3 separate regions of the Homo sapiens genome follow, and regions 2 and 3 are each linked to region 1. The links come from fine-mapping of genetic effects on gene expression. A gene starts in region 1. Each other region holds a variant in brackets. All regions are shown on one strand. Distances are between the middles of the regions.

Region 1 (5,592 bases):
GGTGTGAAGGGCAGGTACTGCTGAAGATCTCTAGAGTCAAAAAAGGATTCACCAAATTAAAATAGAATGTTTCACAGACCAGTAAAGCCAGATGGGAGTTGGTAGCTCATACATATCCTTGTATTTCCAAGAGATGGGAGACTCCAGACTCTGAAAGGGACCAAACACAAGCTCACCTGCTGCGGCAGTACCCAGAGCTGAAAAGAGAGGATGCCAAAGGAATCCAGCCTTCCCGAATCTACACTCTCAAGGCTGGGCTTTGGGACTCTAAGGGTCTAATAAGCTATGGCTCTTATTTTATATCATTACAACAACTGCTTTGGTTCCTTCATTCTTTCACTACTTACCTGTGCTTCTTTACATTTCACAGGTTGATGATACATTACTGCTTTGGATTTCCCTTCAGTTTCATGGTTCAATCCAATGCCCACGTCTACATTTCTTTCACTGCCTTTATACTGCTGTACAGTTAGACTTCATCTGCTACTCCACACACACACAAATCTCTCCCTACTTCCTCACTCCTCATTTCCTGTTGGGAGCTAAGTTTAAAGCTTCATCCTTCTAGATCTACTCAACATTCCTTTTTAAAAGGTAGAGAACAAGGAACGTAGCAGCTGTGTTCGCTGAGCCATTGAATTCACACTGCCCAGCAGCCCTTGAAAGTCAACTGCAGCGTCCATCAGGGCAAGGACTGACAGTTTGTTTCAACACTGAATATGGTTAGTACCTGGCAAGGAGCAGGAGTTCAATAACTCTTGGCAATAATTCGTCATCATTTTCCCCCTGAAATCCATTTTATTATTCTTTTTTTTTCTTTTCAGGCTAGAGTGCAGTGGTGCGATCTCAGCTCACTGTAACCTCCACCTCCCGGGTTCAAGCGATTCTCCTGCCTCAGCCTCCTGAATAGCTGGGATTACAGGTGCCCATCACCACACCCGGCTAACTTTTGTATTTTTAGTAGAGATAGAGTTTCGCCACGTTGGCCAGGCTGGTCTCGAACGCCTGATCTCAGGTGATCCACCTGCCTCAGCCTCCCAAAGTGCTAGGATTACAGGCGTAAGCCACTGCATCTGGCCCGTTTTATTCTTTTATTCTCAAATTATTCTCTCTACAGGACAAGAGAAGGTTTAAAAATCACTGAATCATGATTTTAGGGAAATATTCAACCTAAAAGGCAGGGCCAAAATCTCAAAGGGTCCCAAATTTATCCCAACAGCCAAAGTTCCTCCTCCTCCTCTTTCTCCTTCTTTTCCTACTCCTGTTTTTCTTCTTCTTCATATCTTGAACCACATGACAAGAAAAAAAAATCTAGACTCTTTACCTATATTAATTAATTTACTCTTCATGAAAACCACATAAGGTAGTTACTATATTATGTCCATTTTTACAGACGAGGAAACAAACGATTGTGTTGCCTGCCAAAGATCAGCACACAACTGAGAAGCTGCAAATCCAGGATTTGAACTCAGGCCATCTCACTCTAGAATGTCAGCTCCTAGCTGCCCTGCATACTATGTCCTGAAGGAGAGCTCTTAAGAAGGCCAACTGAAGCCTATGGGGAACAGTATCCTGGTCATTCATTTCCCAAATTGTTATTGAGTGTCTACTATATACCAGGTGCAGGGAATACCCCCAACAGCCATGGTCACTGTTCCTGTCTAGTCAACATTCCTGTTGCTTTCCTAATTGCCATTTGTTATAGCTCCCAGAGAGTAAGCATGCTGAATCCATTAGAAAAGGAAACTCAAGAGTGAGTTCTTCTTCCATATCTTTATCCTTTAAACTTTATTATAGAGAACAATTGCCACTCCTCTCAGCATTAGTTGGGACTCCAGCAAGAACCAGCTAGGACTATGTATCAGCCTGGAATGCATAGTTACAGAACTAAATGGAAATGGGAAAATGAATACAACGGTGTTAGGAAGTCCCTCTCTGCCCGATGATTAGATTGAGGAGATGTATTGGCAGCTGTAAGGAGGGTGGCTTATTCTTGCCCCTTCTTCCCTTGGGAAGGTCTTCAAAATTGGAGGAGTTATGGCTGCCCAGTCACCTTCTAGTCACCTTACAGAGAGAGCAGGAGAGCAGAGTGGCACATACCCTCAGGCAGGATTCCTGAGTCAAAGGCTGGCTGCTGACACTTGCAGCCTCTCGGTTTTATTTGACCTTCACCTTGTGCGGAACCCACCCGCGCAGCACAGGACAAACCCCTTCTCCCGGGACTGCTGAATCAGCCACTCTGGGAGTGGCAGGAGAGAAGTTTCAGACTCCTGAGACATTTGGTCTATTCAGCACCATGAAGAAAACGGCTGTAGCTCAGTGAGAGAATCACAATCAGGAGCTGGCTGAATAAAGGTGATAAAAATAGATTTCCCGACTCCACAAAGATGAATCATTTTGCCATAGGGATTCGCCAGGCTCTGTTTCAACCTGATTTTCAACCCAGCCTCATAAATTTGGCTAAGGAAAATTTTCTTCCCCTAGATAACCAGTGCCATGGAACGTTTAGCATTCAGACGGGTCTGACGGGATTTTATGAGACAATTGTCCAGAAATAACCCCCATTCCTTTCCCGGCCTGCAGTAAATAGTGACTATGAAGGACAAGGACTAAGTGGGCAAGGCTGGAGATGCAGCCCTTCCCTCCAGACTCCTCCCTGCCTCCCCAATGTCTTCCTTGCTTCTTTTCCTCCTCATTTTAAGAAATGGAAGTTTTTAAAAAGCAAAGGGGGCTGTGGAGTCAGGAGCAGAATGTGACAGGGGCTCAGGTGAAGCAGCCCCACCATGAATGCAGCCACATCTCCCCCACAACACCATGTGCTGCTGGACCACATCTTAAAAATGCAGCCAAGTTGCTTCTCATTCTCAAAATTCTCAAAAATCCTTTTTATTTTGACTAAACTAATGGAGTTATGTGTCTTGTACCACATACCGGAAAATAAAAAACAATGCTTTCCTTAGGGAATTAAAAAAAAAAAAAAGCTTAATTAAAAGCAACAGGTGCTAACAGTTATCAAAGGACAAGATGAATCCACAGGAAAGTAATTTTCATATTATTTTCGCCATACTAATAAGTGAATAAAAAGTCACTTTTTTTTAAACCAAGTATTAAAGTCTAAATAGCTTCCTTCTTTCCATCATGGATACCCCTAAGCATGTATTTCTTTTATAATGAATTTTACTTACCCCCACACGTCCTCATGCTCCGCAATGAACTCCAGCCAACCCACTCTGGGAGATGGGAGGGGCATCTCTCCTGTGTGCTCCTCGTCAGCCCCAGCACAGCAGCCGAAATGCCCTTACATTTCCTTTCCCAAAACAGTCGTCACCACTGCCAACCCCTGCTCTGTCCACAAGCAGGCTGCTGCGGCTGAAATGCTGATGCAGTGAAAGGGAACTGGAAGACAGCTGATTGCCACACCTATTGGAGAGGGAGGCGGAGAAGCCCATTCCCTCTGAGGAAAAGGAATGGCATCTTCAGAAGTAGAGATGCCAGGATTGGAATTGTGCAGAGAGCTTTGTGTCAGCCACTAGCACACAGTAGGTTTGCAGTACTGTCAGGAAATCTGGATCTAGAAAAAGCACCCAAGTGGGACCCGAGGAACAAAGACTCACTCCAGTCCCAACTCTGGAACAAAGTTGCTGCCTGACTCCAGGCAAGTCACTGCCTTCTGGTCTCAGTTTCCTTATTTGTAAAATAACAATGTTTCAAAAAGTAAATCTCTAAGTGGCTTCTAGTTCTGGGATTCTAAGACCATCCTAATGTTCATGAGCATAATAAAAAGTAAACTACCATTTATTGAAAACATCCTGTGTACCATCCATCATATTAGGTATTTTATGTATATCATCTCATTTAATCCCACAATGCTGAGATGGGATTTATCAACCCCATCTTATAGATGAGGAAACTGGCAAACTCACTCCATGAATCCCCATGAAAAAAAAGGATCATCATATTCCTTCAGTGTTTTGAATTTAAATGGAGGCATTCAATCTTTGTGCCTGAAATTGAGATGACATCTGAGAATGGAATTTCTGCACTGCTGGGAGATTAATGTGTTTACAGTCCTCTGCTGGTATAATTCTGAGGTACTAGTATTTATGGTTATGGCTGTTCATGCTACTGCAAAATCCATTTTCCACCTGTTGCTTTTTATTAAACCTCCCTAAAGGACATGAACTATTTCTTTCTGCAGATTCTAAAAGCAGGATGCTGAAATATGTGAGCAGAAGCATCGTGTGCGGAGTTACCATTTGGAATTTTCAAATGCTATAAAACACAATGTTTACAACCAATTCATCATTTATAAAAGTTTATTGGATTAATATGCCAATGGACTCACTGGTATCCTGCCATTTATTGACACAAATACATCAAGTGGTAGGCTGACATTTAATATTTATTAATAACTTCTGTATTTCCTTACCTATTTCATAGTTTCCTTGCATTATGCTCTTTTATCTTTATTGTCATTCATCCTACTTTAAGTGAACTTTTTATTTTAGAATAGTTTTTAGATTTATAGAAAGCTACAAAGATAATATGCAGAGTTTCAGTATAACTCATGTCTTACATCTTACATTCCTATGGTACATCTACATTTATCACAGTTAAGAAATAAACACTGGTACACTACTATTAACTAAATCCATGTTTTATTTGGATTTCATTAGTTTTTCCCTAATATGCTCTTTCTGTTTTAAGATCCCATCTATAATGCCATATAATATTTAATCATTATGTCTCCTTAACTTTTTCTGGACTTTCCTTGTTTCTCAGATATGCCTTGCTTTTGATGGCCTTGACAGTTTTGAAGAATACTGGTCGGGTATTTTGTAGAATATCCTTCCATTTAGGTTTGTCTGATATTCTTTCCATGGCTGGGGATATAGGTTTTTGTGAGGAAAAAGTACCATTCTTTTAACACTGAGGGAAAAGAGGAAAAGTACCATTCCTATATAACATTATATCAATCATCCTATTTTTAATGTTATGTTTAAGTTAAATCAAAAACTTAAACTGAATATAGTTAAATTTTAGAAAGGAAAAATTAGATATCAAACTACTCAGAAATCTAGTATTTTATACTGTGGACAGAGCGACAGAGAGGAATTAATTTTTGTACCATTTGAGATGAAGGTAGACCTAACATTCTAGCAGAAAGCCAGCTAATTACAAGAGAGGCGTCTAGCGAGTTCTTTTGAAATGCTTGCCAAGACAAACTTCCTACAAAAACAATCCAGAGGAAGGCACGTTTTAAGAGAAGTGCTGTTTCAGCCTAGCATGGTCTCATACTTCATACATTTGGTGGTATTTTTTTCCTGTTGTCAAACAACCAAATCCCTATAAACCTGGGTTTGGAATACATGCTAAGAATTAGTTCCACAGAAAGTTATCCTCTAGGTAAGCTATAACTATGGAAAAAAAGGAGTCAGACGTCAGCTGAAATATGTATTTCCTGCTATTATATATTTTTTGCTCACAGTTTGTAATTGAAGGTCTATTCCTAAGGGAAAAAAGTGAGGAACTGATGTAATGTCACAAATTCTGCTAAACGCTGTTCAACGAAAGATAAGGGAGAACAAGTGG
Region 2 (5,592 bases), 180 kb after region 1:
CAATAATAACTCTTAGTCATTTTTGTTGTTGCTAACAACTAGAGCTATCTTCCAAAGAAATCATTTGGAACCACAGTAAAGGAAAAGTAGCTTGCTCAGGGTCATCCAGCTACAAAGTAACAGACTCTGGACTCAAACCTAGGATGCCCAGCTCCAAGGTCTGACCTCTCACCTACTGTGTTCTGCTTAGTAAGGCCTTCTAGAAAAGTAGTATGGAAAGAAGTTAGTCACTCCCCTGCCTGCTGGTAGCCACAGTTACTACTTCAAGTTTGCTGTCTCCTCTAGGAGTCTTCCCAAACACAGTTAGATGTGCAACCTGTTCCTACAGCTATAAAAAGTCACTAGGAGTGTTAAAGGGCTGTCCCCACGTGGTCTGTGACCATCTAGTGCTCCGTTAGAGCTTTCACCTTTGCCAACTAAGGAAGGAGTGAGGGGAAGGGGGCTGAAGTGGGGGAATCGTTCCCAGGCCACATTTCCTGCCCAGTAACACGGTCCTCAAATAGCCAAGGCTGCACGCCGAGAAATTCCTCACTAACAAGTTACGTCCTGGATCTGGTTCCCTGAGCCTTTATTAAGAATGAATGTTTTCTTGCCAATCCATGACTCAAGGAAGACCAAGAATCGAGGCGAGACAAGCAGCAAAGTTTGTTTATTAACTTGCTCCACCCAAGGGAACATTTTTATGAAAGGGTGAAATTCCTGACTACTCAAAAAGAAGAAAGAAAGAAAAAAAACCTATGGGAAATTTAATCACCAACTGAATAAAAGTAAAAACAAAGCCCTACCAATGAGGATGCTGCCAGAGACAATGGGGCCCCTAGAGGAGTTGCAATTGTCTCGAGATACCAATCCCCAATCCGCCCCCCCACCCGGGGATTCACTGCCCCTAAGTACTACATTATTGCTGTATTAGCTGAGGAATCTTTGTTCACAAGGCAACTGCATGCAAAACCATCTGTTACAACTTCTGGGTTCCCGTGGTTTGCAGACTCGGCATTTACATTTCAAGAAGAACCTCTGGGAAGGAAGGGGGAGGTCTCTATCTTTCCCCTGGAGCAATTACCTTTTTATATAGCCTGGGAGGGGGAAGCTCTCCTTTCCCTGAAACTGAACCCAACAATTGAAAGGAGATAGGCCACTTCAATAATGCACACGCAGCTCGCCTGGGCTGCCTGGTCCTAAAGCCACGCATGCCCCATTACGGTTTTCACATTCTTAAATTGGTATGAATGGTAAAGCATCAAGAACAATCCCAAACTGTCTATAGGGCTTAATGAGGTTCTACTGTCTTAAGGAATCCCTTCTTCCTTTTCTTAAACGTGATATTAAAGCTAATATTCTGCACTGCATAATAGCCTGAAATATACTACCACTTAAAAGCAAACTGTAATCTGGGCCAAAGGAGACATTTTGTATCTTGATTTAGGTGGGGGCTATAGTAATATACATATGTCAAAATTCATGGAGGTGTACACTTCAGATTTGTGCACTTTTACATGTGTAACTCATACCACAATACATTTTTAAAGCAGAATATGTCAATGATACAGTTAAGGAAATTGAGAATAAATCACTTGCCTTCAAGAATAGTAAAGACTGTTCTGCTTCTAGATCCTCCCCTTACCCCCACCCACACTCGAAGTCTCTCCTGAGAATTTTAGAGTTCAAGAACCTGAAAAATAGTTATCCAACTCTGCAATAAGCCAGTAACTACAAATGCTTCCTGTGTATCCTGGGAGCATAAGTACGCAACACAGGCAGAGCACCTGTCACACGCCAAACCGTTCCAGCCACATATCAAAAATAAAAAGCCAAGGTCTTTTTCTCATCTGATGGTGAGTTATCAAATTATGAGACATGCCTGGGGCTTTCAGCAAGACAGCCCTGATGTTCATTGTTCTGTTTCTTGAACCCTATTTTCAAACAGATGTTTCTATACTCAAGTAGCACTCTTGCTTGCGGGAAGCAGGTTAACCCTGTAGGGTACAGGTCTCTGGCTGGAGCAGGAGAGCAGCATTAAGTGAGGGTGGTTTCTGCAGGAAGCTCAGCAGGTTTAAATCTGTACGTGGAGCTCTTGTTACTCTAGCAGCTTCTTGGGAACCACAATGCTGAACGGAGTGGGGAGTCACTAAGTGACAGGCGGAATTCTGGAAGCTTCAACATTGCTGGGTCATGATTTAGCGATACACTTCCTCCTCTGAACTACCAGGCAAAGAGGGCTGCTTGTCACTGAGGGAAACAAGGCCAAATTCATACCTTCCACTAAGCCTCCAGAAAGGCCACCCATTGAAGCTGAGGCTCCTTGCACTAATCATAGGGGGTCACCTTTCCCCTTCATGCCCTTCAAGCGTCCTGAACCCCGCAGACAGTTCATTTCGGGAGCTCGGGGCTACCAAGCTGCATCTACTGATAGACATCGTGAATCAGGATCACCCAG[T/C]GAGCGCTTCCGGGACTGAGAGCCGAGAGCTCCAGTGATTTCCCTGGCCTGCCAACGAGTTATTTAAGAAGTGAAATATGCCAACCAGACCGGGTAGCCCGTACTTCGGAACCGACCCTGCAGTCCTTGGGATGGAGAGGGGCGGGGGTTGCCAAAGGCTGGGCAGCGTCTATGCGGATGCGTGCTCGCAGGTGGGTCTTGCAAGCTACCCCCGCCCTGCGCACTGTGCCAGCCTCACACCTGACCCGGTGCCAGGAATACAGCAAGAGGCTCCGGTGGGTATGCGCCTCCGTGAAGACACTGCCAACTCTGCTCCGGAAGGGTGCGGGGTAGGGGGACAAGGGGCGAAATGTGGGACCAGAAGCAAGATACCCCGAAATGCGAGCACCGGTGAAGTCTCTGGGGGCTCGCGCTTCCTGCGCCTTTGCAACGCTTTGCTAGCACTGCGCTTCCCTTGGCAGCGCCTGGAAGCGGCGCTAGCTGAGATTTGCGAGGCCAGCGGGCAGGAAGGATGGACGCGCAGGGGATCCCTTCCTGCCCTCACGCGCGCAGCTAGACTGCAGTGTCCCCTTTCACGCCCACCCTCGCCCGGGATTCCAATGCCAAAGCGCTAAGGTTTCGCGGCTCGCCGAGGCCCGGGGGGGTGACCTGGAGCAGCTGGCAAAAGAAAGTGGGGGCGGTTGGGGGGAGGCAAGGCTGGACCTGCGGTCGGAGCGTGCGCGGGTCCGTGGCTCAGGGCGCCAGTGCAAGGCCGCCCGCCAGCCACCCGCACCTACCTCAATCCACTTCTGCGCCTCGGAGAAGGCGGGCTCGGGGGGCGGCTCGGGCTGCAGGGGCTGAAGAGCTTCCAGACCGAGAGCGGGACAAGCCATTTGCGCAGCCCCGCGTCCTCTCAAGCGCCGGGATGAGGACGGCCGCCGCCGTCGCCGCCGCAGGAGCGCGCTCCCCGCCCCTTCCCGCCCGCCGGCCTCCCCTCCCCGCCTCTCCCCGCCCCCGGCCGGCGCAGGTCCCGGGAGAGCCGCGCGCTGCTAGAGGACGCCGCGGCAGCTGTTCCCGGCGCCGCCCGGGCTCCAACGCGCCGTGAGTGACCCGCGGGAGCGAGCGCGGAGGCGCCGGGAGCTTCTTCTCCTCCCCACCTTCGAGGGCCGCTCCGCCCCCGGGGAGGGGGAGCACAGCTACGGACTAAAAATAACCCGGAGCGAGCGCTGCGTGTCTCCCTCCCGTTCACACCCGGCCCGATAGAGGGAATCCGCTGGCCGCCCCGCACGTCCCTGCGCCCCGCCGGCTGCTGAGGGGCGGGCGGATGGGTCTGGCATCATATGGGAGACGCGCGCCCAGTGGGGCGCACCCGGGCCCGGGGGAGCGGGCGCTGCGGCACCGGAGCAGTAGGACGCGCGGGCACTGGCCGCGCAGCACCTGCAGTCCTTCCTGGCCGCAGAGGTAGGGGCAAGGCGGGGCAGCCCCTGGCCCGGCGCCGGGAAGTACACAGCCACCTGATCTTTTTGTAAGAAGAAAAAGAAAAACGACCCTGATGAGCTTTTCTTCTCCAGGAAGGCTACCTGTGTCCTAGTCTGTCGATGCAGTCAACCAACAGTCACTGTGCACCTACTATGCGTCAGGCACTGGGCCAGGCGCTGGGGACGCAGAGATGGAAACACACACACACACACACACACACACACACACCCTACACACCCTACCCACACACACCCTACCTGGAAGTCCTTGCCCTCGAGGTATCTACATTGTAGAGGGAATTGGGGGCCGGGACAGACAATAAACATGTAAATCAAAAGAAGATAATTGTGGCGGGTGTTGTTAAGATAAAAGAGGAGAAGATAATGACATGGAAAGAAAAAGCGCGGGGTAATTTCCGATAGCCTTCCCCCCTTTTGGCTGGGAGGCTGACCTGTGAGTCGCGGTTCCATTAACGGGAGGTAGGCAGATGGTCAGTGAGCTGAAGAGAGACGTGCATTTATTTATCTCGTCCCTTCCTGCAGGTGGTTAGGGGGTTTCCAGAAGGTTCCTCATCTCCTCTTGTCCCACTCAACCTCCCAGGCCTAGGTATGGTAAAGGCTTCCCCATCCCATAATGGTCTCCCGATCCGGCTCACTTCTTTCTAACCCTTCCTTTAAACTCTCCTTGGCCACTCCCACTTGAGCATGCCTTCTGTTTTGCACTACAGCCCAAGTGACGATCAAGGAAGGTGTCTGTAAGGAAATGTCCTGAAGAGGTGACATGAGTGAGGGAGATTTAACTGTGTAACAATTTGGGGGAAGAATTCCAGATGGATGCCAAGGCCTTAAGGTAGGAATGAGCTTCCCCGTGGAGGAGCCCACAGCGGGCCAGCAAGACTGGAGCTGGTGTGGAGAGCACCAGGCGGGAATGATAGCATGGGAGAGGCAGGCCAGGTCCCGCCTGCGGGTGAGGGGGCACACACTACCTTTTAGATTGTTGCCTGGGTATACCCTGGTAGGCCACCAGGGAGCTCTGACCTACGTGAGCCCAGCGCTGGGTCCGGAGGAGCTCAGTATTCTTGGCCTAACCTCAAGCTAATGGATTCCCCTCTTCAGAATGGCTGCTAACAAGAGGTTTCTGACGGTGGCTGGAGGTCCCTGGGTGCCTCAGCCTCTAAATCTCTGTTCCCCATCCAGAATCCGAGTTTAATCTTTGTCCAATTCTGCTGCTATAATAGGGGAATGGAACAAAAAGCAGGCCTCAAATTCCACCATTACCAGCTTTGGAGTCAGACAGGCTTTAGTTTATTTGCTTTGAAAACACTTACGTGGCACTTATACTGTGCCAGGCACTGTTCTAAGTGCATTACAAATAATTGACTAACTCAGTCCTTATTCCAGCTCTGTAAGATAGGACTGTTATCATCCCTACGAGGAAACCAGGGGACAGAGCTGGTGGACAGGGAGGGTTGGATTCAAGCCCAGACAGCCTGGCGCCAGATTTGCTCCTAACTGCACACCAAGCTGTCTTACCAGTCCTGTCCAGACTCCCACTTACAGTGTGTCCCTCAGTTTCCTCACCTAAAATGAGGTGGATATAGTCATCCAGCAGAATCATTGTGAAAGGCACGAACAAGGGGACTGAATGTAAACAGACCAAAGCTGGACCTGACAAACAAGCAGTTGCTGAGTACAGAC
Region 3 (5,592 bases), 160 kb after region 1:
TATTATTTTCAATTGCTATTGCAAGGTAAAGGCCATTTGGAGATTTAATTATTGGTCTACAGATCACAGAAAGATTATTACAGTAAAAGCCACAAAGCATTCAGGAGGGAAAAAATTTCATATAGTTTATCAAAGCTATCCATAACTGAGGAAAACATTACATAAAATCTGCTTTTGCATTTTAAAAAAATCCCTTGGTCAAACACCAAAAATAAAACCTCAAAATTTCTAATAGTAAGGACCAAAGCTTCAAAAATTAGCAAATCTACTACACTTTAAAAACACAAATGTCAAAATGCCAAACAGTGGCAGAGATTGAACAACTATTCTGGGTGGGTAACTTGACACCATACCTAAACACTCTTACTCATTTTTCTTAGATAACATAGAAAACTATATAGAAACTATAATGGCAAGTACATTTCGTTCTATTAACAAAAAAGACAGAAATGTCTTCATTCAGAAAGTAACTCCATAAAAGAGATACCTTTGGGGAAAACTTTATTGGAGACTTGAATGTTGAATAGGATAAATAAGAAACTCATGTCAAGGGCAAATGTTCTAATCTCAAAAAACATATTTTCTACATACTTCATTTTGCTGTTCTGTATGAAACTATTTTGTCAAATCCAAGAAATCTAGAAAACTGTCATTGGAATCATCACTATCCCCTCAAAAAAGAAAAAAGGAAAAATCTGCCCAAGAATTAGCAAAGTAACCTGTGAGCTTTCAAGTATCCTGACTCCACCTAAGCTGCCCAACCAGTTTTTATTTTTACTCCTCTTTCCCGTACTCGCCCTGGGTAGGACCCAGCTGCGCTGTGCCAATCTGGGTCACTCAGCACAGAGGATCAGTGGGCGACAGCCGCTGTATCCACTTTTAGAAAAGCCCCACATGCCTGGGGACTGCTCAGGCACAGAGCTGCACACCCCCTGGACCCGGAGTGTCCGGTGAACAGCAACTGCATGGTTTTGCTATTTCTAGGCTTCAGGCTCCAAAAAATAGATATCTTTACCTGAGAAATATGAAATTAAATGGGAAAAAAATCAGATACTGGTATTGGATACTTTAATTTATAACATTTTTTTAAAGTTACAGTAATTCAGTGTAAAGGTTTATATATATTGGGAAGAAAGGAGAGTTGAAGTACCCAGGATGAACATCTTTATTTTTTTAATCAACAGTTTAAAAATCAATCCAGTTCATTCAATCACATTTTTACACCTAATAGAACCCATTAGGTATGGGTTGGGCACTTGACATTCAGTGATACCTCTAAAAATAGCACTGTTCTAGTCTTATAAAAATAGGAGTAAAACAATCTATTAATGCCTCTTTTTAACCACTCCCAGCTTATAATCTTATACTCACCTCCAAGAAGTAGTCAGTGTTCTGAATAGTTCATTTTAATTATTTCCTTCCTTCCCTTATCATCTGTGTGTTCTTGTATATTACCACATTTTTAATAAAATGTTAGTAACAATTGGTGGTAGCCTCTTTGGCATCCACTTTACCCATTCTTCTACTAAAAGTACCCAGATTTTCCTCTAGGGAATTCACTGCTTCTCTGTTGGGTAGCAGCCAGCATCTTTGATAGGGACGGACCAGGGTGAAGTCTGATTGGCTTAGGCTAATCAACTCATCTATTTCCCTGGTGATCATGAATGAGAATGTGTCCTCTTTCTCTGCCCAGAGGGTGTAAAGAGAACTTGAGGACTGGAGTCGCTCTTTCCCAGCCAGCCTTTAGTGGAAAAGCCTGGACCTTCTGAAGTGGGGTAGGGCAGGTGTGGAGGCCCTATGTAAAGCCAGAGCATAAAGCCACACAATGCACAGCACGGTGGAAAGAGAGAGAGAATCCAGATCCTTACTGATATCATTGAGCTGCTGAGTCAGCCTTTGTATGAAGTAGGGATCTACCTCCAGAACGTCAATGAGCAATCAACTGTCTATTTTTTAGAGCCAGTTTTGGTTGGATTTCTGTTGCTTGCAACCATAAGAATGCTAACTAAAACAAAAAAAAAAATTGAATGAAAAAAATTATTAAACACACACACAGAGTTTAAAATAAAATAAGAAATACATTTTTAAATATATCATACTACTTACAACTCTTGATGGAAGTTAAAAATGAGTGGCCTATCATGTCAGAGCAATACCAGGGTTCATCAGGCTGCTTGGGAACCAGAGTCCCCATGCATTAGAATGTGGGGTTTGGGAGATGCCTGGAGCACTCTTTCTATACAATCACTCTCCTTCCCAGGTGGCAAAACTGTCAAGGTGAGAGGACTTATTTTTGGAGTTTCTTTTAAAATACAGAAAACATGTCTAAAGCCAACACTGGCCTCCAGCATCCTTAGGCATCCCCTACCTCTACCCTCCTGCCCCCAGCTCTTTACTGCTGTTCCCCCTCATCAATATCCCTCACAGACACCCTTGGTCAACAGCCTGCATTTGCACCCTGTATTAGTCTGTTCTCACACTGCTATATAGAACTACCTGAGGCTGGGTAATTTATAAAGAAAAAAGGTTTAATTGGCTTACAGTCCTGCAGGCTCTACAGGAAGCATGGCTGGGGAGACTCAGGAAACTTACAATCATGGCAGAAGGGGAAGTAGGCATGTCCTGCATGGTAGGAACAGGAGGAAGAGAGAGCAGGGGGAGGTACTACACACTTTTAAACAACCAGATC[C/T]CGTGAGAGCTCCCTCACTATCTCAAGAACAGCAAGGGGGAAATTTGCCCCCATGATCCAGTCACCTCCCACCAGGCCCCTCCTCCAACATTGGGGATTACAATTCAACATGAGATTTGGGCAGGGACATAAATCCAAACCATATCACACCCCATAGCATGGTGGTTAGGAGCACAGGTAAAGCAGCCAGACTGCATGAGTTTGAAGATCAGCTCTACCACCTAATGACCGTAAAACCCTTAGCCATTCACTCATTTCTAGGTTTAATGGGAGTAATAAGAGTTTGTAGCTAGCTCATAGGATGGTTGAAAAGTCAGGTGCTTAGGACAGAATTTGCCAGGCCATAAGCTCTCATAAATGTTAGCTATGTTTCTATTCTTTTGTCAGGAACTATAGTAATTTGAGAGAGTTTGGAGAAAATCCAACTGCTGTCCTCCCAGACAAGGCCAGCCATGGCCCAGGCCGGGCCAAGAAGCACGGAGGATTCCTATCTTCGGTGCCAGGACCATGCAGCTTTCCTGCAGCCCACTCTAGCTTCATCCTGCACCTCCCTCATACCTACTCCCAAAGCTCCTGCCTTACTGGTCTTCTTCAGCTCTTCCATTAAGGCAAACACTACAGCCTGAAGTGTTTGCCTAGAACATGATTTCTTGCTCATTTTTGCATGGCCAACCCCTGCTCATCCTTGGGGTCTCAGCTTACATAGCACTTCCTCAGAGAGGCTGTCCCATTGCCCCTTAGACCAAAGGAGATCCCGGCCCTTTTTGTGTTCCAGACCAACTTGCTCTTCCCTTTCCAAGCATGCATCACACGCGTGATTCTGTGCTCAGCGTCCATCCTTCCAGGTGGAATGGAAATCTCACATTTGTCTCTCATACTACTGAGTCCCTAGGACACGCTCAATAACTATATGATGAATGAATGAATGATGTCCCAAACGGAGACAAATTGCCAATACTCATATACTGGTGTAGAAAGGGCTCCAGAGAACAGGAATAATCGCAGCCAAGAAGTCACTGACCCTCAGACAAATTGCCAACCCTCAAGTCTCAGTTTCCTCATTTCCAACTCACTTAAGCTTCTCACTCACAATAAGTAACTCCTGTAGGTTTCCTGGATGAAAACAGTGCTGCTTTATGTAGTACCCAGGCACAAAATCTCAAAGAAAAATGGATCAGAAAAACACACACACAGACAATATTCAACTACCTCCTCCAAAGGCAACAGAAGCTTCTCCTGGAAATGTTGTCCAAGGTCTTCTGATAGCAGATAGGAAATGTGAAATTCCTAAAGAAAACATTTTCCATATGACCCAAGATCCCAGGCTCCAGCACTGGGAATCTTCAAGGTATTGTTTTATGTATGCATCTGTGTGGGTAAGTGTGTGAGAGATACTATCTGCCCAAACTATTAATATCTATGTATTTCTACCATAAAACAGTATCCATATTCCTGTAAATGTATGAATAATGTCCCAAACTAAGACAGCCAGCCAAAAACCTTGTATCCTACAAAATCTCACACTAAAAATAACAGGGCTTGTGGAAAATACAGAGTTCATGTAAAAGGCCCAAACCCTACTCAACTTTGTAACCAGAGCAGTAACAAAAACAAGAACACTAAAAATTACCAGCACACATAAAAAGATGTTTTCTATTTCCTATTACAGAACAAACGGAAGATTACACAAAAAGGTGGGGGGCAAGAGCGCATGGTGGAAGGGTGTGAGGAAAGACCGAGACTGCTGCATTATGGAGATGAGAGGAAAATGCAGAAAGATCTGGGAAAAGCAGACGTTTCAATCAACACAAAGCCAAATGGAGTCTAGAGCAAAAAGAGGGGTGTTCACCTCCCTGGCTGGTTGTGTTCACCTCTACTATCCTATTTTGTTTTCAACTACTGCTATTTGGTGGTACAAAATACGCAAGTGTTAATAAAAATCTCACATGAACCATCGCAACTTGCACCTTACCAAGCATGCTTCTCTTATTTCCCAATCGCATATGTAATAATCCTCATTACAGAAACCGACATTATAAAATAGCCAACTATATTTGTTCAGAATGCCAGAGCCTGTGCCACATGAGAGGTCTAAGAGTGGAGCTGCTGTTGGGAGGTGCCAGATGAGGCCAAAAGAAGAACTATCATGTGGGCACTATGTGGGGACTCAGGAGCTACGTGGGATCAGGCCTGCCAGTCTTAACATGGGTGAAATTTATTGAAACAGGCACAGTAGAGAACTTCAAACTGGGACGGGGGCAGCAGATACCTGTGTTACACAAAGACTAAACAGAATACCATACGCAAAGAACTAACGGTGCCTGGCAGGGAGGCACCCTAAATCCACATTTTCCTTCCCCTTGTTTATAATCATTCCAGTCTGGATCTCAGCATCAAGGACTATTTGAATCCAGTGGGGGAGTCAGGTTCCAATCAAGGAGAAAAAGACTGGGGAAATAGACGTGAAGTGAAAGGGAGTAAAAATGGTTCCACCCACTGATGATGGTTCATTGGGCTCCTGTAATGATTTTTCATCATGGTCCTAACCACCCTACTGACAATTATCTTTTAAAACATATTGAAAGGGTTCCAGTTTCAGAGAATGTGCTTGGGAGCCATATGGATGAAATTGTTTCCTCGCAACTAACGGTGCTATGTATATAGAAGATGCTCAATAAACAGCATATTGAACCATTAAGGGAATGAAGAGAGAGAAGGAGAGAGGCAGGTCACCTGCTTGGTTAGGTAGTTACTTGGGACCATGATCTTTTTAGAAGTTTCGCTTTTACTTCTAAAGGGTCCCAAATACTAACTCTGCAAAGGTACTTTTTCCAATAAGTAAATATATACGGAGCAGCTGTTAAGGATAAGGCAGCGGGACACAGCAGTCACCAGTCCAAGCT

The links.
Region 2: its variant is fine-mapped to the expression of LIMCH1 in blood mononuclear cells (TOPMed, PIP above 0.99).
Region 3: its variant is fine-mapped to the expression of LIMCH1 in blood mononuclear cells (TOPMed, PIP 0.99).

The regions. Positions count from the first base shown.
Region 1 is chr4:41,535,944-41,541,535 of GRCh38, reverse strand. It overlaps LIMCH1 (LIM and calponin homology domains 1), which reads right to left and starts at 3,379. Exons shown (of 32, transcript NM_001330672.2): 1 at 3,186-3,379.
Region 2 is chr4:41,358,558-41,364,149 of GRCh38, reverse strand. It overlaps a transcript of LIMCH1 not described here. Among named protein-coding and RNA genes, the nearest start is that of UCHL1, 100 kb to the right of the region's middle. RefSeq lists an enhancer at 665-1,326. The variant T/C (reference allele first, on the strand shown) is at 2,438.
Region 3 is chr4:41,370,998-41,376,589 of GRCh38, reverse strand. It overlaps a transcript of LIMCH1 not described here. Among named protein-coding and RNA genes, the nearest start is that of UCHL1, 120 kb to the right of the region's middle. The variant C/T (reference allele first, on the strand shown) is at 2,690.